Linked DNA regions of Homo sapiens: all the other regions are reported to be linked to region 2. Evidence: microRNA targets listed by miRTarBase, many of them from high-throughput screens and not tested one by one. Region 2 holds a microRNA gene; each other region holds the end of a gene's coding sequence. Distances are between the middles of the regions.
What was found. Region 2 holds the annotated microRNA hsa-miR-8064 (AGCACACUGAGCGAGCGGAC, at 2,160-2,179, opposite strand). A microRNA usually pairs through its seed, bases 2 to 8, with sites in the 3' UTR of a target mRNA and lowers its output. Matches are read on the target gene's strand: a 7mer-m8 pairs with bases 2 to 8, a 7mer-A1 pairs with bases 2 to 7 and ends in A, and an 8mer does both.

Region 1 (4,333 bases), not on the chromosome of region 2:
AGACTTCAGTAAAATTTCTTTTGTGGCTCATAATATTTCTGGGTAGCAGATGCTTTCTCAAAAACAGATTTTACTTTTAAAAATATCAAATATAATTAACACCTTCAACATAAAATGAAATCTTTGCTTCCAGATGCATTTCAAGGTGTTGAAATTAATCTCTGCAGCCCTCTATGGCTAAGAGTTTCCATTGACTTATGGATTCTGCCTGCCATATTGATGTCTGAAGGACTGAGAACAGGAGCAGGGCATTTAAACTTAACTGTATTTGAAGGATGCTTATTAAACCAGGAGCATTTTTAAAAAGGTATTTGCATCTATTTCTGTCAACACAGTATAAATGAGAAGGTTAAGAACCAGGTGCCCTGATATTTGTTATAGAAACACCTAGCCAGAAGCATAGATTAAGTTTAGGGCAAGCTGTATTTCAAGACACTGTGTCAAAGTCTTGATAATGGATGGACTTTTAAAGACATTTAAAATTAAAATTGACTTTATTTTAAAAGAAAAAAACAATCGAGTGTTAAAAAAAAAGAGGAAGACTAAGTTTTCCATCAAACATACTCAAAACAATAAATGATGGGGGTGGTTGATAAGGGAAACTGAATTAATGAGTCAACGTGTAGTACTAATTATCTGCTGAGATTTCAACAAAATACTGATTAACTTATTTAATAACACTCCATTCCACTAGGTCGTGGGTGTTGAGAAGCATGAATGTGCGTGTGCACACACACACACACACACACACTCCTACATATTTTTAAATGTTAAGAATTACACATTTACAAAACTTTTTATTGCTTATGTGAACTAGTAGCAACTCTGACATTACAGTCTTTATAAGGTTTTTCTTTAAACTCCAAATCTCGGTATCATGCAAATAAGTGACACCTTTAATGTAATTTTTTTAAAATTTATTTTAAATTTATTTATTTATTTATTTTTTGAGACAGAGTCTCGCTCTGTCGCCCAGGCTGGAGTGCAGTGGCACGATCTCGGCTCACTGCAAGCTCCGCCTCCTGGGTTCACGCCATTCTCCTGCCTCAGCCTCCCCAGTAGCTGGGACTACAGGCACCCGCCACCATGCCTGGCTAATTTTTTTTGTATTTTTAGTAGAGATGGGGTTTCACCGTGTTAGCCAGGATGGTCTCGATCTCCTGACCTCATGATCCACCCGTCTCGGCCTCCCAAAGTGCTGGGATTACAGGCGTGCGCCACCGCACCCGGCCTAATGTAAGCTTTTGTCCTGGAAGGAATGTTGGCCACAGCTAATGGCAAAATTTGATTTGCATTTATGAGTGTAGAAAAAAATGCCCACATACAGGTAACTTTCAATATTATATTTGCCTAAATCAGGAAAATACGTAAATGTTTCAGATGTACTCTCTGAAAGGTGTTTAATGCTTTTTTTTTTTTTTTCCTATCAGTGAGAAAAGATCTATGGGTACTAGTTGTGTGTGGAGTATCTTAGCCACTATGAAGCGTAAGCCCATTTAGTTTCAGGATAGAAAAACACAGTAAACGAAGCGCTATTTCTTGGCTGTGAGATAATATTATTTTGAGAAGATGTCATCTGTGACACAGCAACTGACAGAAGCAAACTGACTCATCTGGTTTATCTCAGTAGATGGCATAAAGTATAACCTTGCCCAGGAGAAGTGGCAAAGAATTTCTTATTCATATTTATATCTTTAGTTTTGCTATCCAAAGGAACACACCTGCTAGATTCTGAGTTCCATAGTCTTAGACTGGAAGGAACTTCCAAAATAGTTCCTGAGCTCTTTGTTTTCTGGGTGACGAGGTAATTTGTTCACTGGCTTCCCTGTAAAAGTCTAGAAGCCAGTGCTGTGGTGGCCCATCACACACTGTGGGTCTCATGAAGGTTGGAGAGAGGAGTCTGTTCAGATGGAGCTTCTTGTTTCTGCTTCTTACTCTTCCTGCTTTTAAATTCCCAGGCCTCATAGACTCTGAACTGCTTGCTTCGATCTGCAATACTGCCTCTCTTCCAAGGGCTTTGTCTGGCTCCCTAACCTTGATCTATTTCGTGCTTTCGATTTTGCTACCGGTCAAATGGGCCCTACTGGACTTCCGAATCATTGCTTTCTTTATCTTAGATGCCTGCTAGGCCACTCGATCCTTCCAGAAGCTAGAAAGCCTGGCTTGCCCCTTGTCTAGCCACCTTTCCCAGGCTGTGCCTCACTTTGTGGTGTATAGAAGTTACTCATTTCAAAAGCTAGGGAAAGTTACAATTTACCTGTCAGTAAACAGAAGATGGTTTATCAACAGACTTTACCTTAATGACTACAAATGTTTACCTCCTGCTTTCCAGAATGCAAAGAAAATCTTGGAAATGTCATAATATCTTACAAACATTTGCAAAACAGATCCTTGTTCATCCGGAAAAGAAACAATTGTATTTGTTGTCTCTGTCACAAGGAAAACGTTCAGTGAGAAACACATAGGTAGATGTATACATCTATATGTAAATGAATATGCTAATTAAAAATTGCAGTGGGTACTTTATTAAGAATTTATTTTACCATCTAGCCATTCAAAACATCTTTACATCAACAAACACAGCAGTTTGACTATTGAAATCATAAGCGATTTATCTTGAAAAGGTTATATTTGTAGGTGGATGCAAGTATATTGGAGAAATATTTCTATCAAAATCACTGGTTTTGTTAGGAGTATTTTGATTTTTCTATTTTTACGCTGGGAAAAAAATTAAAACAAGTATGTCAGTGTTCATTTTATGGGATAGTTGGCTTCACTGTGTTTGTCATGTTTGTCCGAATTACAGCTGTTTATCTTGCAACTTTAAGATTAATTAAATGCAAATGTAACTCTGTGAATCATGGGAATACCTGCCAGACCTCTTATTAATACCTTCACTTAAAACCCCCTGTGCCTGAGAGTCATTAATTTGCTAAAAGAAAAGTGCTAAAGCAGCCCTTTGCCCACAAACAATTCTGCGATGGCTGCCCAATTAATCCCAAAGCATTCTGATCCTCCTTTCAGGCCTCGTGGCCCTTTGAGGACACAAGAAGGCTCCGATGATAACCTGGCAACCTAGGTAGAAACCCAGCCAAGTGTGAGCGTTTGAAGCTGCAGTTTGGCTGCCATCGTGTCGGCGAAAAGAAAGAATTCAGGCACCATGTCATCCAGTACAAAGGATAAAAACGGATTCAACCGGAAATTCAATGTGGCACCACATATGGGATACATGAGTGCGGTTATACAACAGGCCACATATTTTTTTTGAACAGTCTCCTACATGTGATGCCGAGGACATGTGTAACCATCATAACGTCTCTAGGAATCTGTATTTAATTTGAGTTGGGGTGGTGGCAGGGATTGGAGATCTGAAGCCGCCACAGGTTTGTGGCAGATGGCTCTGTGTCAGCTATGACAAGCAGCCAGGCTCAGCTTCCTCTGCAGATTTTCTTTTCTCTCTGATCAGGTAAATATGGGCACACTCTGGAAAGTTCTTCAGATTCTGCCTTAGGCTGCAAGTTTGTGACTTAGCCCCATCTGTCACAAATCTTCCCTAGGTTCTGTTGTAAGCAGAGACCTGAATTTACCATGTAGGGCTGCCCAAGAAAACGGAGCGATTTCACCCTGCAACGAGGAGGAGGGAGAGAAGAGAAAGAAGTGAAGAGCATTAATGACTAAAAGATGAAAGTATGCTGAAAATTTATATTGCAAATTTGCATCACTTACGTCAATTACATTTCAAAAAGCCACCAAGTAAATGGTTCTTGAGTTTCATCACCTCAGGAAATCTCAGTTTCTGATTGGTCTAAAGTGTCGTTGTATTTCCAACCAGAGAAGAAGGCTACTGTTTTCTGCAAATGGGTATATTCTGCTGCACACATATTTCTTGGTTTATGTTATGAATGACAACCATTCATAGTTGGATGATGAAAGTTCATCATCCAACTTTTAACTTATATAAACACAAGACACGTAACACTGTACATACAAGTTTCTGCCGTGAATTTTACTTTTAAATGATGAAGACACAAAGATAAATGCCATTACTATTATGTGAAATTTAAAAAGTGCTTCATATTTATAACAGGTTTATATTCATTATTTCATTATACCAGTACTTCAGGGGTACATTGATATTTAAAAAAATATTCTTCCAGGTTTACAGATGAATCACATAGAGGCCAAGAAGATCACCTAGAATCAGGTTGCAAATGAGTAGCAGAGAAGGACAAAACCTCTAACTGATCTTAATCAGCCAAAGCATATCTGTGATGCTAAAAGGTTTTTTCCTTTTATTTTATTTAGACAAATCAGAGGAAAGCCAGACCAAATA
Region 2 (4,274 bases):
CACAGAACTGGGGTCAGAGGGCGGAAGCCACGGTTGGGGAGCCCGTGGGCTGGCCAGGGCATCGGCACACTGAAGGTCACAGACTGTGGAAGCTGCCCGTGGCACCACATGGCTCAGTTAAACTACCAGCCAAGAGAGGTGTGTGACAGGATGTTTGCCGATGTAGAAACATGTATTGTCGCAAGGCCTAAAAACCACCATCAGATGGTAGCAAGCCGAGGGCAGGGACTGTATTTCATTAGTTTTATACATCCCAAGGCTTCATCTAGAACAGACATTTAAAGTGGATGGATGCTAAGAATTGACAAGCTCTTTGGAGTAGTTGCCACATCAGACCAAATGCAGGACACATTCATAGAGTTAAAACAAGTTTGGTTTTCCTAGAGTTGGCGTATGTGGGTGATGGGGAGGAAGTGCTGCTTGCTCAGCGTGGCAAGGAGCTGCTCATGCAGGGACGAAGCAAACCTTTTTCCACTGAAGTATTAGGAGGACGATGAAGACGACAGACTTTTCAAAAATCATGATCACGATGTAAAGAGCGCACTGCCCGACCCAGGCTCCACACTGCAGAGGGTCTCCTGCAGGGACAGGCGGGTGCTTAGTCACATGGGGCCCAGGCATCTGAGTGAGATGATGTCCCCACCCCACTCCCCCACACGCACCCCAGAACACTGGCTCTAAAGCTCTAAAGGTACTTAATGAGCCCCCCCAAAAGTCCAAAGGATTACCTCATCCTTAACAGACAAATGCAGTATTTTAAATAAAATCAGAGAATTCCTTATTTGAAGATACTAAAATGGCCTTTCTTTTAAGAGATTCTAAGATAGGATTAAAAAGCACTAAAGTTAGGAAGTGCTCATTGCTGGAGCTCAGAAAAGCTGTTCTTTCTGCCGGCTGGCAGCAGAAGCTGTATGAAGCAAGACTGCTATTCTTATCCGTTGTTGATTTTTCCAGTGACAGCGGGGCTGCCCCTCCCTTCTCTGTCCATGAGTGGACTGATGTTTGTGGATGATGAAGCAGGACCCAGTCGCTTTGTTTGTCTCCCACCTCCCCACCTCCCATCCCTTACCCAACTCCCCGGGCCATCCCTGATACCTCAGCCTCTTGAGAGCAGAAACGTGACTCTGGAGGAATTTGGACTCTACCTGTCCAGCATGGGTCACCCCAAACACCTTGGCCAGGGACAAGGAAGTGAAGAGAGAAGTCCTTGGGGCAAGGAGGTGGGAGGGATGGGCCGGGGCCCAGGGCTGTGACAAAGGTCCATCTGGGACCCCTTCAGTCACCATGCTTGAGAAACCGAGGGACCTAGTAGTACAAGCTGGAGGATGTGCAGGCCTTGGAATGCCTCCAGGACATTTTGAACGGAGAGAAGACCAGCCCCTCCAGGGAATGATCCTGTGATATGAAGAACCCTAGGGTGGCTCCTGGGAGCCACATAGGCCTCCCCAAAGTGGGAGACCCAGGGGAGAGTGGGATGTGGGAAGGTTGCCTGGGGCTCACCCTGGAAGTTCTGCCAGAGCTGCCTTACCACAGCTGGCCAGAAGAGGGGGTACAGGGTAGCATTTTGGGGGTGGCGGGGGGGCGGGAGGCTGGGGGGTAAAGGCCGTAATCCAGGCTATGAGAAGATAATTTGGTCCAAAGAGATATCTCCAGCTTCTCACTTGGCTTTATTGTTTCTGCAGCAATCCCTGTTTGGGCACCCATGCTGGAGGCCCATGCCCTGCCCAAGCCTGTCAGCTGTACACAAGGGAATGACTTTATGCAGCTGCAATGGACAAAACACCAGGCCATTCCCTTTTCTGGAAAACCCTGGGAGAAGTGTGGCAGAAACACATCAGTCGCCTCTTCTGAGGTCTTCCTTTCTACTTTCACTTAAGGGATAGGAGACATTTGAGCCAAAAAACCCATTTCATAAGCATAATCCCTCCTTGCTAGGTTGTTAATGAGTTTTGCAATCCTTTTCCTTTCGGTAAGTCACCTAACCTTATCGAGAACAGTTCTCAAAACAACAGATGAACTTATTTGTGAGAAACCATTAAGTAATTAAGTAGGTTTGAGGACAGTTGGACAGAAAGCGCCACTAGGAAATCTCTCTGTGAGGACTGGAGTGTTTGGGAGCCAGCGGAGCGCGCGGCACCGCTTATTTACTATGGAAGGATGTCCGCTCGCTCAGTGTGCTCACTCCATCTGCTCTTCAGTTTTAAGTGACTGACAAGGAGGAAAATGCTTTTCCTCCCATACGCCTCACATTGCCCCAGTGTTCTAGGTTTCTGCTACACAACTTAGCTACAGCTGCCTCTTTAGATGCTAAAATAAGAAAGTTCAGAAACGTGAGAAAAGAGAAAAAGCACCTGTGACCCCGTCTGGCACACCATTTCCTCTGGGAACCCAGATCTCACGCAGCCACCGTTGGGAGAAGCACACGTGGCTGCTGTGTTTCCTGATTCCTGTTTCACTTGCGAGTCTTTCAGATGTCCCCCACAGTCTCCTCTTTAAAGGACAGACATGCCAGGCAGTGTTGCATGTCCTGCTTTGTCATTGCTGTTATTGTTTTCTTAGAGATGGGGTCTCACTCTGTCATTCAGACTAGAGTGCAGGGGCATGAACACGGCTTATTGTATCCTCAAACTCCTAGGCTTGAGTGATCCTCCTGCCTCAGCCTCCCAAGTACCTGGGACTAAGAATGCATGTCATGTGCCTGGCTAATTAAAAAAAATTTTTTTTTTTGTAGAGACGGGATCTTGCTTTGTTTCCAAGGCTGGTCTTAAGCTCCTGGGCTCAAGCGATCCTCCCCGCTTAAGCCTCCCAAAGTGCTGGGAATGACAGGTGTGAGCCACTGCACCTGGACCTTGTGTGTCTTGCTTTTTACTGCAATGAACAACCTCAGGCATGTGGGTGTTTTGTTTGGGTTTAATTATTTCCTCAGTAGAAGTCACAGCAATAGGGGCCAAAAGGAGGGAACACATCTGTGGCGAGAGGCTTTCAAAAGGGAGAGTTTGGCCAGGGATGGGCAGCAAGACCCATGAAGCACCGTGACCCAGATGTCAGGGCTTCCACATGGGAAAGAGTGGCCTGGTAATCAGAGTGCAGACACCATGCGTCACCTGGATCTGGTCTCAACCGCCGGGGCTGTGTGGCTTATTTCCCTGAGTCCCGCATTCTCATCAGCAAACTCTTGGCCTTCTCTTCTAGGAACAAAAGACACATCCTAGAAAAATAAGCCCCTCTTCTTCATTTACATGAGAAGAGAGCTGTGGTACCTCTTCCTCAAATGGATGGGCAGGATAACAGGTGTGGGAGGTGGAATAACAGCCCCACACAGTTGCCTACATCCAAATCCCTGGAACCTGTGAGTGTGTAGCATCACATAGCAAAGGGGAATTGAGGCTGCAAATGGAATTAAGGCTGCTAGTCAGCTGACTTTAAGACAGGGAGAGTGTTCTGAGTGTCCAGGTGGGGCCAATGTAATCACAAGGACACTTTAAAGTAGAAGGCTGCAGGAAGTCAGGGCAACTCGATGTGGGATAAACCCAGCGACTCTTGTTGGCTTGGACGACGGAAGGAGGGGCCGCGAGCCAAGGCTTACAGGCAGACTCTAGAGGCTGGAAAGGGCGAGAAAACAATCTTCCCAGAGGCTCCAGAAGCCAGCCCCATTGACACTGGGACTTTAGCCCAGTGAGACCCATGACAGACTTCTGAACAAAAAAAGATAATCAACTTGTGTTGTTTCAATTTGTGCCATGAAGTTTGTGGAAATCTGTTACAGTAGCAATAGAAAACAACAGAAATTGATGGAAATAGAAAACAACAGGTAACTGAGCAGACAAGCTATCCTTCCTCAGCCTGGGGAAGACTCAGGATGGTCCCCACAGCTTTATTTGGAGACATTCTGGCTTGAAGACTCTGGCTCCCAAAGGCAGTGGTGGGATGACCCAGGGGCAGGGGCTGAGGCAGGCCAAGAGATTGAGAAAGAGGCTGAAACAATATCACTGCCTTCTTCCTTTCCATCCACCCTTGGGGATGAAGACAAAATGTGAGGGAACAGCTGGTAGCGTTAATGCTTGATGTATCCGAACCAGACCTGATCTTCACTCCCAGGTCACTGAGTGGCACCTGACAGACTAGTGGTGACCAGTGGATTCACCTTAGCACTGGTCAGCTATAGTAGAGCTGGGAGCCACACCTTCTAGAAGGGATCTCAACTGCAAAGTAGTTGTGAGCACTGTTTGTGGGGGTGGTGGGAGGGTTTAGGTATCCTGGTGCAGCAGGCCCAG
Region 3 (4,333 bases), not on the chromosome of region 2:
AGTTTGAGCAGTAATTTTCTTAGAGCTTGACCTTTGTTTGTTTGTTTCTTGCTGTTTTCAGAGTCCTAAAGCAAGAAAGAGTTTAATGGACTTGCCTGCAGGACAGCAGGCTCCCCAGAAGACAGTGCTGTGCTAAAGCCATTTACTCTAGCGGGAGAAGCCAGTGTCAGTGAGGGAAAGGAATAAAGCAGGGGAGGGAAAAGTCACTGGTTTAGAGCGACCTCTCAAAACACAGGGTTATTAAGTCATCTCTCAAACACAGGGGACTGCAGAAACACAGACACCCTCACACACTCAGCTATATACACAATGACACGTATCTGCTGAGCTACACACCTGCTACAGATAACACAGATGTTAAGATGTCTGACATATAAATGTGCTATCCGTCTGGTAATACACTCAGAGAAATGCTCACATATATGGAAATAAAAACGCACAAACAAATATGCATCCCCACTTAGGGATACTTACACAGCAGGACCCAGATTGGAAGGTAAACCAAGGACTCACTTTTGTTGGTTTCACTGAGTGGCTGGAGCACTCACTCAGTACGTAGGTTGGAGTGGCAAGGTAATCAATTTCTGTCAGTCCAATATGCTGGTAGCATCCCACAGAGCTACAGCCCTTAGGTAAATACATGCACTCGAAAGTGATTATGAGGCAAAATGAGAGAGAAATCTACCACCAACTACTGTAGAGAGGGCAGGGGTGAGCACTTTATCCCTATCCAACACACACCTGCACAGCTAGTCTCTCCATTAAAAAAGGAGTCCCAAGCCCCAGGCAATGAACTACAACACAGCAAACACACCAGGTCACCTGCCTCTTACCATTTGCTGTAAAGAACTTGTCTTCCATGTAGATGTCAAAAGGCAAGAACAGAGGCGGGGGAAGGGAGGTGATGATAGTTGGGCAAAAATTTGGTGGTCAAGTATTTTCTCTAGGGCTTACTTTATGAATTTTAGCCAAAGTATTACAGATTTGACTTAACATTTTGATAATGCAAAGGATGGATGAACTATATAGCTTTAAAATCCTCTCTGAGAATGCATACAGAACTTTTTAACATTCAGTTCATGGACTATAAAAACTGTCCTATCTTCAAAAGTACATATTTAAGAACAAATTATCTACCAGTTAAAACATCACCAGGGAAGAGAGCAATCTCAGATATAGACTCCTCATTAAGTTCTTTAACACTCAATGCTCTAATTTTAATAACGTAGGATGAAAATTATAAAAAATCTATAAACATATAAGGCAAATGAAATCCTGTCTACTATAATGTGAACATACATTCTACCAGCCTTAGGGCGAAGTTTACCCCCTTTTAAAAAGAATAGCCTACCAGTTCCAAGAATTGAAATAAAAATGCATTGTGTTCAATTGTGGGATGCAGCTTTCTGAAACCTTAAATCTTTTAAATGTCATTTACATTGTTCCCACTGCAAAAGTAACTCAAGCTATAAAGAGGTTGAAAGTGCAAAGGCTTTACAAAGATCCTGCATTTTATTTTGTTATTCTTTCAAAAAGAACTCAATACAAAGTCAATATAAAAAAATCAATACTCAATTTAAAACAGAAACAGTAATTTCTGAATGTCTAACATTCTCCTATGCAAAGACTGGGAGAAAGAGGAAGGGGGAGAGAGAAAATAAATTCTTTAATTTAAACCTTTCTTCACCCTGCTGGGAATGCACATGCCAGAGCAAATGAATCCAGCTTAACCCCTTCTGGACTGGTCATTGAAGATAGGGTTGGAAGAACAGTATTTTAGAATGGTGATGAACAGTGTCATTATTAACTATATGTACATACACTTATGGCACTTGGAACTGCACTGTATCCATGACGTAGCAACCTCTGACACAGCCCGTCTCACACTTGCCATCTCTTACCCCATTTCCCAAAATATTTCCTGAGAAAGATATTGTAAGGAACTTCCAGTTTGAAGGGATCTAACGGCAAAAACTAAGAACAAAAGCACCATGGTTCCATGGTATGTGTTTTTTATAAACAGAAACACATAGTTGAATAGTACATCTTGGCTCCACGCCACACCTATGGGTTCCCCCTTCCTTCTTCTCCAGCATGTCTTTTCAAGCTGAAGGCTAGTAATTGAAGAATGTTGTTTACTTTTTCAGGTACAGGTGTATTACAAAGATCCAAAGCCAATTTTGATTTTTACAATGACACAAAATACTGTACCACTTGTGGAGTGTATGAAGCAGTAAGGGAGTAAGGGGGTGTGCACACATACAAAGAGCATTCGACAATGTCATCCTGTACTACAGCAAGATGGCTGATTACCGAAATACTGGAAAAAGCAAGAGTGAACACTTTTAAAAGGTTTGTTGCAGATACAGGAAGGCAAATGGAGGCAAAGGCAGCCCAGTGCAAGAGGTCCGGATGGGGCTCCTGAAGGAGCTCCCCTGCAGCAGGGCTCCGCCAGGATGGCTCCTCTGCCCACAACCCAGTCAGTGTCTGCTCCCCCAGGGCCAGGGGAAAGCCCACTGAAATCAGCTGTGTTTAACAGACAGACCACAGATGAATCTTTCTGGACAAGATGGGCTCCCTACTCTCCCTTCCCCAAACTCTGTAGAGTGTCCATTTTCCTTCTCCCCACTTTATCAGCAACTAAGAGTGGGAGCAAAACCAGCCTCTTTCCTGGTCCTAAGTGGCAGAGGCGATGAGTTGCACAGTGACGGTGGTCAGAAAACACAGGGACTGGACAGCAGCAGTTGCCAGCGTGGTTGGCATGGTTTGGTCTCCTTTGGCAGGGCAGCTTGCTCTAAGCTTGGGAAGAACTTACGTCCCCAGGAAATTAAGTGGCTCCAAGTTGCACCTGCCAATCCCAGAGTCACAGTGTTAGTCTCCCCTGGTTGGTGTAGAACAGTGGGGAGGAAAACTGGGCAGTGTGGGGCTCCTGCTGCAGCCTAAAGGTGGCATTCCCACTGCCCTCTCTCCCTGTGCTTTACCTGCTGGGCACCCCACACTTCCCTATGGAAACAATGCTGGGACTGACTTGAGGCTTCACACAGAGCCGGAGGGCACACATGGAGAGCCAGGGCTGCCAGCCAGGTGGGGGCAGGATGGCATGGAGGCCAGGTGGGCAGCTGCAGGGCTGGGAAAGGGTTACCTGCTTCAAGCCAGCAGAGGGGTGGGATCAGAAACAGGGCAGGTAGGTTTTCTCTTTGGGAAAAAAACAAAATCAAATCACTTAATAGCTGTAAACGACAGTGTACATTTTTTGTTGTGATCTTTCTCTGAAGAACCTAAGGCAACAAAGAACAAAGATGAAGGCAGGTATCTCCTGAACTGCCCACGACTTTCATGGGTGATGTGATACTGGACATTAACATACACAAATACATATGTGGACGTGTCGTGACTGGTTTCCTGAAACAGAATAAAGATGTGTCCCCTGGAAGTCTACAAGTGGGCTGACCAGAAGCAACGGGGGACTTGGTACTGGACGAAAGGCAGGAATTAGTTGTAAGGCGAGGCTCCCAAGAAGCACCAGCTCCACTTTGGTTTACAGCTGTAACAGAAGCTCCAAGGAATGGCTTCTTGAGAAGTCCCATCGACAAAAGTCAGATGTCATCAGTCACTCTTTTTCAGGGTGGACAGCCCCTGCTTCCTTCCAAATAAAGTGCAGATGGTCAAAGGATACTGGTCAATCATCTGCCAGTTTCAGTCAGCAATGAAGAAGAATTTTTAAAAAAGACACCCCTCTGGCATAGATATATATCTCTCTATATATTTTTCTTTTTTTTTTAATAAAGCCACAAATATAGAACTTTTAAACGGATGTCTCAGACTGTAAGCGAAGGACAAATTTGTGAGATTTGGGGTCTATGAACTCTTCAGAGAGTATGATGAATGGAATTTTCTTCACATTGACTACGAGGCTGAAGTCCAAGCACTTAAGGACGAACACAATTCCATCCCGTAATCCATTAGTCACAGCCTCATCACTGACAAGCCTCCACTGTGTAGAGAGCCAGCGGTCCTTGTCATATTGCAGGGTGGGGCCCGCACTGAGGTACCGTTCTAGGAAGGCCTGGAAGCAGAGGAGAAAGGCCATTAGGGAAGAAACAGCCTGTTTTAAGGGCAGTACTGCCAGGCGGCTATCCACTCTCACATCTATAAAGAACTTTTTCCAAATAAACCAGCTTAGACCAGAGCCCAGCTCATCACACTCAATTCCCATCAGACCCTCACAACTGAGTCATTACTGGGGAGGGAAGACTTCTTGGACTTCCTCACTCCCCTTTACCTACTATCCACCAAGCGCAAGAATAGTGGTACCCACAGAGGGGAGGGAAAA
Region 4 (4,333 bases), not on the chromosome of region 2:
AATTCAAGCTGAACCTAGCCGCTGTCTCAAGGATCCTTCAATTTTTCAGGTTGCAAGGCAACTAAGACTGATAGCAGCTAAGCCAGATCAGTTGATTAAGTGTCCCCGTCGGAACCAGCCAGTCATTGTGTTAAACCACCCTGATGTGGACTCGCCAGAAGTGACCAATGTGATGAAGGTAATAAATAAATACAAAGGCAATGTCCTCAAAGTTGTTTTATCAGAGAGGACTAGGTGTCAGCTAGGCATCAGACGGCATCATGTACGCCTGACCTACCAGAATGCGGAAGAAGCCAGTCAAATTAAAAGGCAAATGATGTTGAAAATGAAACTCAAAAAAGTTCATAAAAACAACTACCAGGTAGTGGATTCCTTGCCTGATGATTCTTCACAGTGTGTATTTAAGTGCTGGTTTTGTGGGCGACTGTATGAAGACCAGGAAGAGTGGATGAGTCATGGCCAACGGCATTTGATAGAAGCAACTAGAGATTGGGATGTTCTTTCCTCCAAGGGCAAATAAGTAAACAGTTACTCTTTAAAGCAAGTTATCTTTTAGTTTATTCTGGTTTGGAGTCCCTCCACCAAGATTCAGTAGAAGAAATACAGACTGTAGAAATGAGAGGACTGCTAATTCTTCAGAACTGTAGGAATATTGGGAGCTAGGAGTCTGAACCTGAAGTATGTGATTGGACCCCAGAATGTATTTGAAGGCTCTGAAATTGTACATGCAAATTGGTACATATGCATTTTTCTGGAGAGAGCCTGTGAAACTGAACAGATTTTCAGTGGGATCTGAGACTTTTCTTTGTTTAGCACCCCGTTTTCTGAGTACATACTGATCTTTCATAATCCATTCAGAGGGGCAGATTGAGAATGTTTTACACATGCTCTTCATATAAATGCTACAGAAAAACCTTTGTTTTGGTGTGCACATCCATTTTGTTTTTGCTTTAATTTGTGTTCTGAGTATTTGGTGCACAATGGAAATTATATTTTCTACTTTACTGTCTTCAATTTGGTTATAGAGAAATGGCCATTCTTTTACTCCCTCCCTGGTTTTGTAATACTCCCGAGTGTTCCGTATAGCACAAAGAGTTTTGCTTTTACTGGCCATTTTAAAGAATGTTTTCAACTGCTTGCCTGAATTTACTCCTTTCACAGCAAGTGTTAGAAGAAAGATAACATTTTCAAATACTTAGCTTTTGCTTTCTTTAAAATACATTGGTTTATGACATATGGGAAGGGAACGTACCTTTTTGCAAAGACAAAAAGAGATTACAAAAGGAAAATATCTAAAACTATTTTCTCTTTGCCCTTACCACTCCCAGAAACATAAGTGACCAATTTAAAATGCTAGGGAACAGGCTTACAACATAGGTAAAACTCGCAAACACAGTTCAAGGTAGGCTCATAAAGTTGTGAAAAGGGTTTCATATGCCCTTTAGTTTTCATTTGGGATTCATCCAAAGACCATGGGTGGATGCTGTCTTCTCTCTTCTTGATCCCTTTGATTCATGGACACTAGACTCCCTTTGCCATTTCTTCTGAACCGGCCCTCCTGTGGACTAGCACAACTTCCTTGCCCACTGTTTCTTCCTTTCTGTGCCTTTGAGACCCCTTAAGGTTTTCCCTCATGCGATTACTAGAAAATGGCAGGAATCAACAAAATGGAGACCTCCCACTGTTTTTGCTAAAGTTACAGGAACACGATCCCTAGTTTTCATTGATAGTAACGCTGTTTCTAATTTGTCTTAACCACATTCATGCTTACCCTGCTGCTCAGCTTTCTCAGGGAAGCAACTCCAGGAACACTCCTTCCACTCCCCTCTCTACCAACAGATGTCAGGACTGTCATTTATCTACACATTTGTGTTCTTTAGAAAAAGGCCCACCCCCTGCACAAGCACAGCCTCTTGGGCAGATAGGTGGCTGGGTCAGTGCTTAAGACAGGATTCTAGTCTTCACTTGCCTGTGCAGCTGGGCGCTGACCTTCCAGGTAGAGCACAGATGGCACAACCCCGAGGCAGCCCCAACTTGCATTTCCCTCCCTCCAGGGGCTATTCCTGTCTTAGGCGATTTGTGGGGTGCAGTGAATGAAACTAAAGAGTTGTTGCACCTGAAAAAGACACCAGTGATTGTTTATTGGGTAGTCGATTGGAGACTTTGATTTTTTTTTTTTTTTTTCACATGGGAAAGTCTTAGATTCCAGTAGATGGAATTGCAATCCTTTGCAGTTTGTTCTCATTACAGATAATCAACATTTCTTTTGTATAATTCAATACATGATCATCAAGTTAATTGGTAAATTTTTATTGAAATTTAAAACTTGCATTTTTATATATGTGTATGTGTACACATAAAAATATTTTTTACCATATGAAAATTGCAGTAGCTAATTTTCTGATTTCCTATTTTATAATGATACATGGGCTGGAAAAATGTAGAACGTTTTTATATTCTAGAAATTTATTTTGGAAGTACATTTTTATAAGGGTCTAATCTCACTTTTGGAAAATGAAAGCACAGGAATGATGGGGTCTGGTTTATGTGAACAAGTGAGTAGAAACCCCTTTGGATCATTTTATTACTGCATTTTTATTTGGTGCTTTTTAGGAAGTAGATCTTTGGTACCACTTCACTACGTAGAGCATTCGAAGTTTTATCCATGTTATATATTGTACTCCTGTGGCATGAAAAATAGCTCCCAAGATATAGAGAGGAGAGGAGTGAAGAAAAGGCTGTGGTTTTTTTTTGTTTTGTTTTGTTTGCCACTTTTTTATCTCCTATTCCTCACCACATAGTGCTTTTTCCTGAAAAGCTGGACTGAGAATTGGCCTTGAATCAGGTCAGAGTGTTAACTGTCAACATGAAGTATTTTCACTTCGCAGCATCAACTTTCAAGCATAAGTAAAAACACAACTTGCATACTTTGATGGAGCTTAATTGTGTGAGTAGAATATGTAGCAAAGCTTTTTAGGATTTTCAGAACTAGAATACTTTTTAAGGAATTAAAAGTGTTTCTGGAAGTCAAAAATGGGAAAGCAAAAAGTAGCTGTCCTCCCTAAAGAGCTTTAGAAGATAGCTTAACCTGTAGGTACATGTTATGAAATAAACACATTTCTAACAATACAAGGGAGTAGGGGCAGACCTGTGTTGAGTATTTGTGTGGGTTCTTAATTTTGAAGGACCTCCAATCACTACATTTTGTTAATACTGCCAATAAAATCATTTTCAACTTATTTTTTAAAGTAGGTTTTCTTACTTTGGTGGACCAGAAGTGAGAGATTGTTATATTTAGGATATAGGCAAATACAGTAAAAGTTAAAAAAAAAAAACCTGACCCAAAGTATACTCTGATAGACTATATTATATTCAATTTTGTATCCCCAGTCGAGAACATCTTGTAAGCCTTCATTAAGGGCCACCTGCTGTCTGTTGAACTAGACTGAACAAAATATATTTTCTCACAAGCTCCATCCCTTTTTCTTTAGGACATGTTATATATAATCCATCTCAGAAGTTGAAGATGTGATGTTGCTCGGCCTTTGGAATAATTTTTAAATCTGTAAATGTCTATATGAGCAGAAACAAAACATTGTGTAACATGTTTTAAGCATTATTGTAATTCCTGTGTTAACAGTTTGTGTGTCTGCTGCTCTGGTTTTGAAACATGTTTGTATATAGATACAGGAGTTGGCATAAATTTTGTTAAATAAAGCAACAAAAATTTTCTTTGCCCTTTGATTTCAAACGTTATGCAGGTGACTTTATTACATAGCCTATTTGTATTATACATTTCTGAGTCAAAGGCAAGGCGTCATTCTACGTAACAGGTGTTTTGAATTCTACCAGGGTATGTTTTGAATTAGATGCAATGATGGGATGGTTAACCTTGCAGACCCTAATATGAGGCCAGGTTATGTTTTTGTTTTGTTTTGCTTGCAGATTCACAAGAGGTGCTGGTTTGGACAGCAGTGGCAATTTTCCTGCCATGGTTAGGGGCCTCAGCAGAGAATGTATGTGGGCCTTTAACCTGCCTTCCATGTCTTGGGTAGAAGAGTTCCCAGTCAGTGATGAGCCCCTGGACCACGTGTACTTGCACTATTGATGTCATCTCTCCAAATGATCTCTTGCACCCGAGTCCACATATATTTGGGTTGCAAGAGTATGAGGATATTTAAAGAGGCACTTAATTTCCTCATCTCACTCCCAGGGCCCAAGGAGTCATAAGGGAAAGGAAGAGAATTGGACTTGTGACAAATACTGGCAGATCTGAGGAAAAGGGAGGTGAGTTGCTTAAGTTCACCAATTTGTTCAGTTTATTTTGAGTTAA
Region 5 (4,321 bases), 84 Mb from region 2:
CTGGAGTGCAGTGGTGTGATCAGAGCTTAACTGCAGCCTTGACCTCCCAGGCTCAATTGATCCTCCTGCCTCAGCCTCACGAGTAGCTGGGACCACAGACATGTGCCACCATGCCTGGCTAGTTTATTTTTTGTGGAGAGGGAGCCTTGCTATGTTGCCCAGGCTGGTCTCTAAGTCCTGGGCTCAAGCGATCTGCCTGTTTCAGCCTCCCAAGGCAGGTGTGAGCCATTGCACCTGCCTTTAATTTTTTTTTTAAGAACCAGAATTACATTCTGGGTTTTTGTGGGGCAGGGTCTTAGAATGAGGAACTCTGACCAAGCAGGGCTTCAAGGGAACTGTAGGGTAGTGAACTGGGAGATATTCTTAGCAAATGTTGGAAGCCCCTGATCTAGGGCTTGAAATTGTTTTTTGGTTTTTGTTTTTGCTGCTTGGAAATTAATTAATCAAATAGTTAAAAATGTAATAATATTCTTTAGTATTACTACTACTGCTATCCTCTAATGAATATTAATGAAAATTATTTTTCAGAAAATAACCAATTCACCCCAGAAGTTAATCAGCTGCAGAAGGGAGGAGGTGGATGCCTGTGCCACGGCTGTGATGTCTCCTGAGGAACTCCTCAGGGCCTGGATCTCATAGGTTTGCGGAAGGGCCCAGGTGAAGCCGAGAACCTGGTCTGCATGACATGGAAACCATGAGGGGACAAGTTGTGTTTCTGTTTTCCGCCACGGACAAGGGATGAGAGAAGTAGGAAGAGCCTGTTGTCTACAAGTCTAGAAGCAACCATCAGAGGCAGGGTGGTTTGTCTAACAGAACACTGACTGAGGCTTAGGGGATGTGACCTCTAGACTGGGGGCTGCCACTTGCTGGCTGAGCAACCCTGGGAAAAGTGACTTCATCCCTTCGGTCCTAAGTTTTCTCATCTGTAATGGGGGAATTACCTACACACCTGCTAAACACACACACACAGAGTCTCTCTCTATATATACACACGTACACATAAATACACCCAGCACTTGCAAGGCTAGAGGGAAACTGGTGACACTCTACAGTCTGACTGATTCAGTGTTTCTGGAGAGCAGGACATAAATGTATGATGAGAATGATCAAGGACTCTACACACTGGGTGGCTTGGAGAGCCCACTTTCCCAGAATAATCCTTGAGAGAAAAGGAATCATGGGAGCAATGGTGTTGAGTTCACTTCAAGCCCAATGCCGGTGCAGAGGGGAATGGCTTAGCGAGCTCTACAGTAGGTGACCTGGAGGAAGGTCACAGCCACACTGAAAATGGGATGTGCATGAACACGGAGGATCCATGAACTACTGTAAAGTGTTGACAGTGTGTGCACACTGCAGACAGCAGGTGAAATGTATGTGTGCAATGCGACGAGAATGCAGAAGTCAGTAACATGTGCATGTTTGTTGTGCTCCTTTTTTCTGTTGGTAAAGTACAGAATTCAGCAAATAAAAAGGGCCACCCTGGCCAAAAGCGGTCTTTAAAGTTCTAGTTACATTTTCAACCTCAAGTCCAGAGAGGCTCCAAAGGATACCTTTGGTCAAGAGGACTCGGGGTGGGGGTGGGGGTGGGGATGGGAGCAGCGGAGGAGCAGCCCCAGAAGTCCAGAGCCCAGGGCTGCCTGGTTGGGGGCAGCCTCTGGCTGCATGAGAACCCCAACTGAGGCAGCTGGCATAAGCTTCGCCTGGTTAGGTGCTCCTAAGCCTTTCCTGTTGGCCCCACCCCACAGGAAATCCCTGGGGAACCCTCTTTTCCTTGACAGCTTACTCAGGGTATCCCCAGCCCCTCTTAGTCTGCTCATTTAGGACCTACCTCTGGAAGCTTCTACCCACCCCTTTGCCCCACCAGGTGAAGAAAAGAGCCAACCACAGAGAAGGAATGATGGGAGGAAACTTCTTGAGGGGTGAAGGGATTGATGGGCAGGGCCTGCGCCTTGCTTTCTAACCCCCTCGAAGCTCTGGAGCCTCCAAGTTGGTTTATCTTCACCCTCACTTCCTGGGCCCTTTCCAGCCAGCCCAGTGGTGGGACAGTCTAACTGCATCAACTGGGTGTTTCCCCAGAGGCCCACAGCCCTTCACCACCTGGAGGGGTCTCTCCAGGAGCATGAGATCGCTCAAGACCCGTTCCTTCTTTTCCTTTGTGTTATTTTGTATGCTTCTCTGTGTTGTTCGTTAGAGGGTGTGTGCTAATTTTATATTTGACCTAAACTAGAAACACACTTTCAGTTTGCAAAAACAAAGACCATATTACTATTCCAGTCATCACCCTCCCTCCTCTCTCTTCCTGCCCCCTTATGGTGGGGTGGTGGGGGGCACTATCCTTCTGTCACAGCCCAGGCGCAGAACTGAGAAAGGACCCTGACCTCCATCTGCTTGAGTCTCTCACAACTATTCCCAGTGCCCATCCATTTTTTGGCATCTATAGGTACACAGAGATTTCTCTTGATTCTTCTGTTGTCTCCCCTTGCCCTGAATGTGCATTTATGGAGCCCCAGCCATGCACCCGACCTGCCAGCCCCCATTGGTGGAGGGGCTGCCTCCTCTACAGCTGGCTGTTCCCTCTCCCCTGGAGCACTTCTATCCCAAGTCCCCAGGCCTCCTCCCTGCCCCTCCAATGCATTTATCCCTACATCTGGACACTTACATGAGTGAAAAGGAATGTGATTAGTAATTACGGCAGGACCACAGCTGTAAATCGGGACTCCTCTGGGCAAACCAGGAGCCAGGTCACTCTCATCATAAGGCACAGCTTCCTGCCACATTCTTTTTCTAGAAGCTCCAACCCTCCAGATGCCCAGTCACTGAGTCCAGGGGCTCAGGCTCAGCACTACTGGCTTGCTTTGTTTTCACAGTTTCTCATTGAGTCCTGTGGGAATTGGGGGAAGTACTTGTGTGTGTGTGTTGTGGGGGGATAAGTATTTGGGAGCAGCCTAGAGTGGCTTCTGCTGTTTCACTGAAGACTGTCTCTTGCAGGCCAACCCAGTAGAGTCCCCTGAGCCCCCAGAATCAAGCCCAGCTTTCTTAGTCCTGCCTTTAGGGTGCAACTGCCAGGGTCCAGTGAATAAAATCCCTGCTCCATGAGGCTTACATTCCAATGGGGTAAGGGAGAAATAATAACACAATAACAGTATTATTATTCAGTGAATTATTTAGTATATTGGGAGTTTGTAAGTCACGGTAAAATGAAAAAGTAGAGCAGAAAACGGGGGCTGGGGGCAGGTTGCAGCCTCTTCAAAATGAAAGTGGATGGAAACAATGGACCCAGAACTACCTGTCAGATAAGTCCCTGCATAGCCACATGGTGTGAGATATTATGAGAGATTCTAGAACAAAGTAATTTGGCAACAAATCCGTAGGTGTATGTAGTCTAAAACAAAAACTTTATTGAGTATTTATCCCTTTGTATTGATAGTGTATTTTTGCAACTATTATCTTATCAGATAAAGCAAGTAAATAATATATATTTTGTATATTTTGATAAGAATCTAGATTTTAGGATTAGTGACAAGGAAGGCTAATTTTAGGATCCCAAATTTGACTAAGAACAGGGCACTGTTGGAACTGAATCAAACATATTAATATGAAGTCATGTCTTTATGAAACATGACATTAAAAATATTTTGACTTTTTTCCACTGAAATGGCCCAGGAGAAATGTCACCTCCACAATGCATCTTAATGCTAAGATTTTGGTTTCTAGTGTTAGTTTTCTCCCAAAGGAGCCAAAGTTTCTTGGAGCAGTAATGGATGCCATGTCAGTTTGGAGTTGAAAGGTACAAGGTAATCTTAAAACACCTATACCTTTTTGAGACAGAAAGCAAAGCATTAAATAAGGGTCATTCAAAATTACACAAGGAACAATCTATACAGGGCTCCTCCTGGCCAAAGTTGGGACAATATAAGCACCAGAAGGAGAATATTGGCTGGCACAATTGATACCATATATTTGAAAAGTCATCAGTCCATGACACCCAAGAAGAGCGAAGCTACCATAATGCATTCTCAGAGAAGATGAATCTAATAGAATGCATTTCTACTTGTTATTCAATCGTGTTGGGCTTATCGACTCGTTTATCGTGTCAATGAGGAATACCAGTAAATGTAAATCCATCAGTCAGAAGGCATTTTTTCTCCTCTAAAGGCTCCTCTCCGCCCCTTAACGTCCAGTCTTTCCCCACTTGGCTCTCCCTGTCCTGTCAAGGGGTTCGGTGGAAAAGTCTTTTAAGTTCCCTTCACAGAAGAATTGTAGACTCTGCCGGTCTAGTCTCTGGGCCAACCCTCCCCGTCTCTTTAGTAAAGATGTTTTT
Region 6 (4,000 bases), not on the chromosome of region 2:
AGGTAGAATGGCCTTACATCACTGTTCAGACACCTTGGCCTCATTGTATAGGAAAATCTTAACTCTGTTTTTTTGTTTTCGTTTTTTTAATTCTTGTCAGTCAAAGAAATAGCTTCCCTGGTTTAATACTGCTTTTCTTCATAGACTGAAACAAATAATACAGCTTTCCTTTTAGTCCTTGTTCAGCCACACAACACAAACCAGTATGGCCTTTGGCATTTTACTGCAAGCTTTCCATTCGATTATTAATGTTTCCGGTGCCCATGATCAAGCATGGAGAAGACCTATAATTAATTGACTTTTCCTTTCCTTTAGGTGCAGTCGCTTTCAATCTGAAATCAAACGCTTGAAAATCTCATCCCCGGTGCGTGTTTGTCAGAACTGTTATTATAACTTACAGCATGAGAGAGGTTCAGAAGATGGGCCTCGAAATTGTTGAAGATTCAACAAGCTGAGTGGAGACCATGGTCTGTAGACCCCTTCCCGATTCTCCTGTCCCAGCTTGGAAGGCATTGAAAACAGTCTCCGTTTACACATCTCTTCATACCACGTGTTTGAAGTGTTAAAATTCAAAGGGATCATTGAATAAAACGGGTGTAGAGTACAGGAATGGGGCAGACGCGATTCAGGTGAACAGCACAAGAAGAATATGAGGTGGTTCCTAGGAGCAACACTTTCGACCTCCAGTTCTCCCTGATGACAGTAGCTGTCTCCAAGAGAAAAATCCTCACTTATTAACTCTCTTTTCTTGCATCTCATTTTTATAGAGCTACTCATCCTTATTTGGAAAAACCAACAACAAAAAAGGCTTTTAGAAAATGGTTGTAAATCTGACTTCTTTGCAAGTAACTATGTATATTGTAAATAGATATAAAAGGCCTTTTTTCTAAATAAGGACTTAACTGCCTGTAACATGAAACTTCAAACTAAACCACTAACTCAATGAACTACTTATGGTTTGTCTGACATCCCTCACTTACCAATTAATTATAAATATGTTTTTTTAAATCCCCAAAGACATTATCTGTGGTCTTTTTTTCCTTTCAAGCTCAGCCTGTGTGCCTGATGTCATTTCTTTCAAGTTGCCCACAGTATCTCCACTTAAACTAGGCTAGTAACCAAAATAATGTGGACCTTCTTTAGGAAACAGTGTGGGAGAATAGGAGTCCAGCCGTAAGATAAACTGGAAATATTTGGGCGTCTTGTACCTGGCTACGCACCACCTCAGTGTTGTTCCTACATAAACAGGGCCCCTTTTAAACTTGTATGTGGACTGCTGTTTGGTCAAAGAATACCTTCTTAGCATTGCAGAAAGGTGGTCAGATGACCAGTGTAGTGCAGGAAACAGCCCTGTCTCAACTAATGGAAATATATTTGCATGTAACCCAAAATTAGCTTATCTTGCATAGAACATAATAAGTATGTGTCTTTGGTGACACTAATGTTCTACTATAGCTTATTTTCAAACAAGGGGTAAAAAAAGGAAAGAAAGAAGTGTACAGAATTAACATATAAACTTTGTTGTAAAACTGAATCATGTCAGAACTGCTTAAAATTAACCTTTACCATTTAATGTCATCTACCTGAAAACAGTGAGATTTATACTGTATCAATGTCTATTTTTTTGTTTTTGCTATGAATATAATTACAGTATTTTAATATTTAGTTATTTAATTTGTTCTACTAGTTGGATACAGAACACACAAATCCAGGGGGATTAAAGCTGGAAGGGGCTAAGAGATTAGTTTACAGAGAAAAGGCTTGGTGGTGGGATTTTTTTAAATGTGTGTTATGTACATATATATATATATATAATATATATTAAAAATGAAACAATTAATCTAGATTTTAACATTTTCAGAAACTTAGTGATAACATTATGAACAATTCTAAAAGCCCTGTGATTTGAAAAATATAGAATCATTAATGGCCCAAGATAGGCCTTCACACCTTCACAGGTGCGAAAGGAAAGGCCTTCACACCCTCACAGAGGCATCATGCAAAGGACAGCGGCTTTGGCTTTTCCAATTTTCCATCTTTAGGCCCTGGTGAGAGGCACACTTATGCACTAAAATGCACATATATGCACATGCATTCAAAAATAGGCATTTGGTACAATGGTGATCTTGTACCTGATGGGCTGAAACCAGCTTAAGAACAAATTTGTTCTTCCTGATATGATAACTAGGTCTCCAAGAGAAAATAGAAAGGCTGCTTTAGTGCCTTACGCTTACTAAATTTAAATCTTTATTTACCTGGGTTTGAGCCTACAGTCTATTTATGATTACATATCAAAATTGATTAAAACACTTCCATTTCTAAAAGTTCAAATATACTTGTTAATAAAAGGATTATCGGCATTAATACTTTAATTTAAAGAAAAGTTGTGTTCTGTTTTCCTTTCTGTGTCTTACTCCCCCCACACTCTCCCTCCCCCATCACCATCTTCAATTCTAATAAATAATGCTGATGTTCAACAGTTGCAGAAATTGTGCTATTATGTAACTGTGGGCCTTGCCCCTGTCTGGCCCTCTAGATGATTTGTAGCAGTGTTATTCTACACTTTTTAAAAGAAGCGTCCTCCTTTTGTCCATGAATCATGTTTACCCCATACCCAGTGGCAGAGGTGTTCTTTAAAGACTTGAATATATGAATGTGTGTGTGTAGTTACTTAAAGGTTATTCCTCTTTGTAATAGGAAACTATATGGGATGAACACTTTTAAACTTTCCGACACAACTTCCATTACTAACTTTCTAACAGAACTTCCATAACTAGAAGGTGGAAACCAAAACCCTCATGGTAGTATTTCCTCTGGCAGCTGGTGCTGTGGGCAACTGTTTTGTTCAATCGGGTTTCTTTTCTTTTTGCCTCTAATGCAGAAATCAACAGAATCACTCACACATACAAGTACACTCACATACATAAACTAATTATTTCTCTGGATATCTTTCTGTGTTCCATGTAAATTTATTTACCAACATCTATTGTCAACATGTACATCTACCTTAGTATGGTCTGCATTCTTTTTCTGAGAGTACCTCATAGGGCTCCTGCCTGATCTTTGTAGTTTGTTCATTCATCCATCCACCTGTTCATTTGTTCATCCATGTATTCTAACATTTCTATGTAGTGTGCAACTCTAATGTCATGCTTTTGAAGAAGAGAATAGCTGCCCATAGCAGCCATCCGTCTGGATAATAGCAAAACACTCTAGATAAGTTATTTTGCACTTTCTTATGTATAAAGTTGGTAGAAACTTATTTTTGCTTTGTATCATTTAAATACATTTTGTTTTGGTAAATGAACTGTGTATAAAATATTTATGCCGTTAAAACTGTTTTTAGAAAGTATTTTTAATTTCAGCAAGTTTGGTTACTTGTTGCATGACTCTTAACACAGCTGACTTTTTGTGTCAGTGCAATGTATATTTTTTGTCCTGTTATTAACTTGTAAGCCCTAGTAATGGCCAATTATTTGTACAGCAACAGAAGTAAATTGAAGATACTGGCTAAGACTGGATTGATTGTGGACTTTTATACTATATTGCAGAAACCAATATCTGTTTCTTGGTGGTTATGTAAAAGACCTGAAGAATTACTATCTAGTGTGCAGTCTGTGATATCTGAATGTTCATTGTATATTTGTCTCTGATGCAAAAAGGTAGAGTAACACAATTACAATACATGATTAAATGCAATAGTCCAGGTACTTAAGTAATTTTTTTTTCATTTCAAATAAATACCTATTTACCACCAAAAGAAAGAAAAAGAAAAGTTGTTAAGTCAGTTATTCAGGGAAGGAAAAACAGAGATCTAATAACTCCCTAACTTTATGTAGTTCTTTTCTAGTTGTAAATACTTTCAGAAGCACCTGCATAAGATTGCAGAAGTATTGGCTGTTAAGGTTCCAGTTCCAGTTCTAGTTTGACTCATCCTTAAAAATCAGGCTTTCTGCAGTCTGAGCTTCTCAATTGTGCTGGATTCCCAGGGCTAATGAGT
Region 7 (4,333 bases), not on the chromosome of region 2:
TCACACTGAAGAAGGGGGAGTGTCCCCGGAAGCAGACGGATCCCAATAAAGGTGCAAGACGGGAAGGAGGTGGGGGAGCTGAATCTGGAGGGAGCTGTGCGTGGCGGGGGTTCCTGTCTGTTGAGGGAGGGTGTTTGGGTCTGAATAGGGGTTCAGAATGTCTGAGTGATGGGAATCATGTGGCTCTGACTGTGTGAAGGTGTGCCCCACACTCACTCAGGCTGTGTACTTGTGTAAACAATGAGAAGCCTGGCCCCCACCCTCGTGATGAGCATACTGACCTGTTCACGGTATCAGAGCGCCTCCTGTGCCTGTGTCTGAATACATCTGTGCGTACCTCTGGCTCCAGAGGTGAACGTGTGCCTTCCAGGGCCAGAGGTTTCCAATACTAACAGCTCCTACTTACTGAGCAATTACTCTGTACCAGGCAAGGCACACAAACTTGTATATGCATGTTTCACTTACCTCACAACAGTTAATCCTCACAACAGTCCTTTGGGGTAGTACACACCATTGGACCCATTTTACAGATGAGGAAACTGAGGCCCACTGAGGTCAAGTAAATTGTTCCAAGTCTTAGTGAATGTGAACCCTGGCAGGCTGAGCTAACCCCCACCCCACCCCACGCCACCTCATGTCTGTGCGGTGAGTTTGTCTGTGTGCACTGAGGCCAGTGCCCACCCTCAGGCCCTCCAAAGAGGTGGGCAGAGTAACAGTGCCGACCTGCCTGCCACTTCCTGCCCCTGCCAGAGCTGACCAGAGCCCTGGCCTGTCTCCTCTTTCTCCCCTGTTGCAGTGGTGGTGATGCCGGGCAGTGGAGCCCCCTGCCAGTCCAGCCCACAGCTGTGGGGGCCCATGGCCATCTTCCTCTTGGCGTTGCAGAGATGATGAGAGCTGTGTGGCCACCCCCCCAACCTTGCCCCCGGCACACCAAAGTGTCCACATTGTACCAAAGACTGACCCCCGCCAGCTGGGGTGCCCAGGGGCAGGGCCGGCCCGCCAGGGAGGGGGCCTGCATTGGCTGCAAGGATGAGCAGAGAACAAGGACAGAGGCCAGGCACTGAGGCCCTGGAGACAGCTGTTCCACTTGCACACACGCACACACTCATGCTCACACACACAGAGATATATTAAAGCACAAGTTTCTATCTGACCTGCCAGCACCTTCTTTACTGCAAAGACAGGGGACTTGCCTGAATGGCATCCGCCAACCCAGGGACCTCGGCGCAACATAGGCCTTGTCCTTGCTGCACTCGTGGTGTGCTTCTGACTTTACCCTGTCCCCTAAGTCAAGGCCGAACTCCAGCCTGGTGGCTTTGCCAGAAGGGAGCCAGAAGTGGGGCAGACATGGAGCCCCTCCCTTGGTCAGACTCTGGGACTCCTGAGATGGGAGAGGCAGGGATCAGAGGACGAACAGGTGGGACTTTGCGAGCTCTGTGACTGTCCCACGTCCAGGAGACAAGGAAGGTAGGGCACCTGCTGCACACGATTCTGTCCAGAGTGAGCACTGGATGGTGGAGACCATAGGTCACCCCAGATTCCTTGACCTATTTCTGGGACACCATATTTCCCTCCTCAGTGTGCACCCTTTGAAGGGACCCAGCACAGGGTCTTGGGCCTGGGCAGTCTGAAGACTGATAACTTCCCCACTCCACCCTACAAGCAGTGGGACTCCTGAGAACACGGTTCTCTCCTAGCCTCAGCCCCCAGCTGGGTCTCAGAGGAGCTGGGGGAGCGGTGGCCAGCCCATTTTCTGGGGTGAGGCTTGACTTGGAGAAAGGCAGAAGAGACGTCCCGCTTCTGTGATTTGGTGCCCCCATATCAGACAATGAATTTGGAAGTGGAGAGGGGCCTTCATTTCTTATCTACTTGGCATGAAAGGGTGCCCTGGATAGGAGGGTGTGTACAGGGCAAAATGCCAAAAAGCACTGTCTAGTTGAAAGTTCCCTTCTCCACCCAGGGGCAGTGAAGGAGGAGGGGCTTATAGAGCTGGGATTGGTGGAGGGAGCAGGTGCCAGTCCCCTCACTCTCTGGGAGCTGTGAAAGGGATCCCTGTCCTTGGGTCCTGGGTTAGGCACCTGAGATTGACATGATGGGATCTAGATCTTTCCTCCTTGACATCACCTGAGCCCCCACCTAGCCATCCATGGGAGAGAGAAGGCCCAGCCCCTTCTAGAATGACTCTTTAGGCATGCGTGCATATGTGTGTATGTGTTTGTGCCCGTCTGTGTCTAGGTACCACCGTGGGTACATTGTTGGGCAGGAGTGTGTGCAAACACAGGTCTGTGTGTGCAATCTCACATATCTGCCTGTGAGACTGGATTGAGACCCATTCGTTTCTATGAATGTCCGTGTACGTCAGCGTGTGTGTCCACCTTCCTGAGTGATGTGTTCGCTTGTAGGGTGCTGGCTGAATAGACTCTGTCCAGCCCTGTTCTGTAGTCTCAAGCTGCCTGCGATGGCCTGAAATTCCACCTTTCATCCCCTATGGATGACGGAGAGCTTACAGATGACCCTATTGAATGCAAGCACCTTTGGTGAGGAGCATCACAGGGCTCCTTCTGGAGCATTTGGTGGGGACAGCTGCAGAGAAGAGGCCTGGAACTCGGGCAGCACTGCAGTGCCAGGAGGCAGGCGGGGAACCGAGGCAAAGGCTGCCCATCTCCCCCTGCCAGGCCTGTGTGATCATTATCACCAACAGCTGGTGGGTGGCCGGGCCAGGATGCAGCGGGGCCTTCTGATGCCCAATCAGCACGGCTGCCTTCCTGACCCAGTCAAGGCCTCTGTCTGAAATGAGTCGCTCCAGGTTCTCAGCATACACTTCCATCGCGTCTGTCGGGTATTGTTCCTTAACTGTCCCATCTGTGCAGAGTCCATTGCCCCAACTAGACTGTGAGCTCCTCCTCTGAGCCTTCCAAGTCCCCCCTCCACCTTCGCCACCTCCCGCTCGTGCCCAGCACAAGTGAGCCTGGTGTGGAAACCACTCCATTGCCCGGTGGAATGGATTCTGTAATCAGTGGTTCCTGGCCTTGCCTGCAGAATAGAACCACCAGAGTCCTTTAAAAAGTATTGCTGCTTGGTTCCCACCTCAGAGGTTCTGAGTTAATTGGACTGGAGCGCAGTCGGACATCAAGAAATGTTGAAAAGCTCCTTGGGTTCTCCTGACAGCAGGAACCACTGGCCTGGCACCACCTGGGTGCTTCCTCTGTGCCCTCGCTGGGGTAGGCATTGGAGCACCAGAGATGAATAGCCCCAAGTGCTCCCTCTTTGGGGTTCCCAAGGCACCCTGTGCCTGCTTCCCTCAGAGGACCTTCCAATCCATTTGCCCCGCAACCCTGGCTGCTCCGACAGGGGAGACTTGTCTCCCTTGTTCCCCTCAGGATCCATAGAGTGGACAGTAAAGGTGCTCAGTACATGTTGGCTGAGCTGAACTGCATACATGTGGCCCCCAGGTTCCTGGTCTTTATGGACGAAGGGCACAAGGTGGAGGGGGGATGGGGGGATGCTGCTGGAGGTCTCAGTGGGTGCAGACAGCCCTGCCTTGAGGATGGCTTGACCTGGGATTGACAAAATGTGTCTGCTGAAATGCTGAGGTCCCCACGTGTGAATGGGTGAGGCTGATGTGGATGTCTGTGTGTGCCAGCAGGTGGGTGGGGGATGTGGGTGTCAGTGTATGCCAGTGGGCACTGTAAATGTCTAGGCATGTGCTGGTCTCTGTGTGTTTGTGTGTTCCTCAGCAGGAATGAGTGTCTTTGTGTATCACCTGGTGACTTGTCAGTGTCTGTGTCTGTGTGTGCCTGTGAGCCAGCATCTCTGTATCAGTGTTGCTCATGCTGTGTCTTTGTGCGCCATGGTGTGTCAGTGTCTGTGTGTTGATGGGTGGCCCATGAGTGACCCCCGCCAGGGGAGACCAGGCTGGCTGGATCCAGCACATCTCCCCAGTGGCAGCCTCGCCCTCTGGGTCAGGGTGACTGAGGCATTTTGTGGCCTTAAAACGGGGTGTTCAGGGTCAGCCCTCAGGGTGCTGGGGCCCTTCCATCCCTTGTCCCCTTCAGGTTGGTGAAAAGGACTCCGGGGGCCAGGTGCTGTATAGCAGCTTATGGAAGTCTCAGCTGGGCTATCCTGCCCTTGGGAGCACAGACAGGCTCCTAGGGTGCTGAGTGAAGCCTGAAGACCAAGCCCCCTCCTCCTGGAATGCTCCTTCCACCCCTACCTCTCAGAGATGGGCCTGACACCTCTTTCTCATTCATTCTCCTTTTCCCTGTGCTCTGGGAAAGCCCCTGGCTCAGGCTGTCAGAGTGAGGATGGACCTCAAAAGTTTGATCCCCTCGTG

Region 1: miRTarBase lists QTMAN as a target of hsa-miR-8064. Seed matches in the 3' UTR shown: 7mer-m8 at 3,477-3,483 and 7mer-A1 at 727-733.
Region 3: miRTarBase lists VANGL1 as a target of hsa-miR-8064. Seed matches in the 3' UTR shown: 7mer-A1 at 2,253-2,259.
Region 4: miRTarBase lists ZNF518B as a target of hsa-miR-8064. Seed matches in the 3' UTR shown: 7mer-A1 at 925-931.
Region 5: the mRNA of IL20RB is a reported target of hsa-miR-8064. Seed matches in the 3' UTR shown: 7mer-A1 at 1,342-1,348 and 7mer-A1 at 1,375-1,381.
Region 6: the mRNA of WDFY3 is a reported target of hsa-miR-8064. Seed matches in the 3' UTR shown: 8mer at 3,131-3,138 and 8mer at 3,606-3,613.
Region 7: the mRNA of MDGA1 is a reported target of hsa-miR-8064. Seed matches in the 3' UTR shown: 8mer at 1,578-1,585, 7mer-A1 at 2,268-2,274 and 7mer-A1 at 2,288-2,294.

What each region holds. Positions count from the first base shown.
Region 1 is chr2:143,943,512-143,947,844 of GRCh38, forward strand. QTMAN (queuosine-tRNA mannosyltransferase) reads right to left here. Exons shown (of 12, transcript NM_001376312.2): 12 at 1-3,624. The coding sequence ends at 3,541. The region is part of intron 2 of QTMAN-AS1 (QTMAN antisense RNA 1); the gene reads left to right. Among named protein-coding and RNA genes, the nearest start is that of QTMAN-AS1, 8.6 kb to the left of the region's middle.
Region 2 is chr3:52,844,364-52,848,637 of GRCh38, forward strand. It overlaps MIR8064 (microRNA 8064), which reads right to left and starts at 2,189; the gene lies at 2,100-2,189. STIMATE-MUSTN1 (STIMATE-MUSTN1 readthrough) reads right to left here. Exons shown (of 10, transcript NM_001198974.3): 5 at 466-578. STIMATE (STIM activating enhancer) reads right to left here. Exons shown (of 8, transcript NM_198563.5): 5 at 466-578. RefSeq lists an enhancer at 122-622.
Region 3 is chr1:115,690,852-115,695,184 of GRCh38, reverse strand. VANGL1 (VANGL planar cell polarity protein 1) reads right to left here. Exons shown (of 8, transcript NM_138959.3): 8 at 1-4,066. The coding sequence ends at 3,806. Among named protein-coding and RNA genes, the nearest start is that of VANGL1, 51 kb to the right of the region's middle.
Region 4 is chr4:10,439,291-10,443,623 of GRCh38, reverse strand. ZNF518B (zinc finger protein 518B) reads left to right here. Exons shown (of 3, transcript NM_053042.3): 3 at 1-3,744. The coding sequence ends at 520. Among named protein-coding and RNA genes, the nearest start is that of ZNF518B, 16 kb to the left of the region's middle.
Region 5 is chr3:137,009,585-137,013,905 of GRCh38, forward strand. IL20RB (interleukin 20 receptor subunit beta) reads left to right here. Exons shown (of 7, transcript NM_144717.4): 7 at 529-1,501. The coding sequence ends at 639. Among named protein-coding and RNA genes, the nearest start is that of IL20RB-AS1, 30 kb to the left of the region's middle. RefSeq lists a cis regulatory region at 4,194-4,321.
Region 6 is chr4:84,669,307-84,673,306 of GRCh38, reverse strand. WDFY3 (WD repeat and FYVE domain containing 3) reads left to right here. Exons shown (of 68, transcript NM_014991.6): 68 at 316-3,710. The coding sequence ends at 439. Among named protein-coding and RNA genes, the nearest start is that of CDS1, 88 kb to the right of the region's middle.
Region 7 is chr6:37,633,923-37,638,255 of GRCh38, reverse strand. It overlaps MDGA1 (MAM domain containing glycosylphosphatidylinositol anchor 1), which reads left to right. Exons shown (of 17, transcript NM_153487.4): 16 at 1-51; 17 at 797-4,333. The coding sequence ends at 888. Among named protein-coding and RNA genes, the nearest start is that of MDGA1, 62 kb to the left of the region's middle.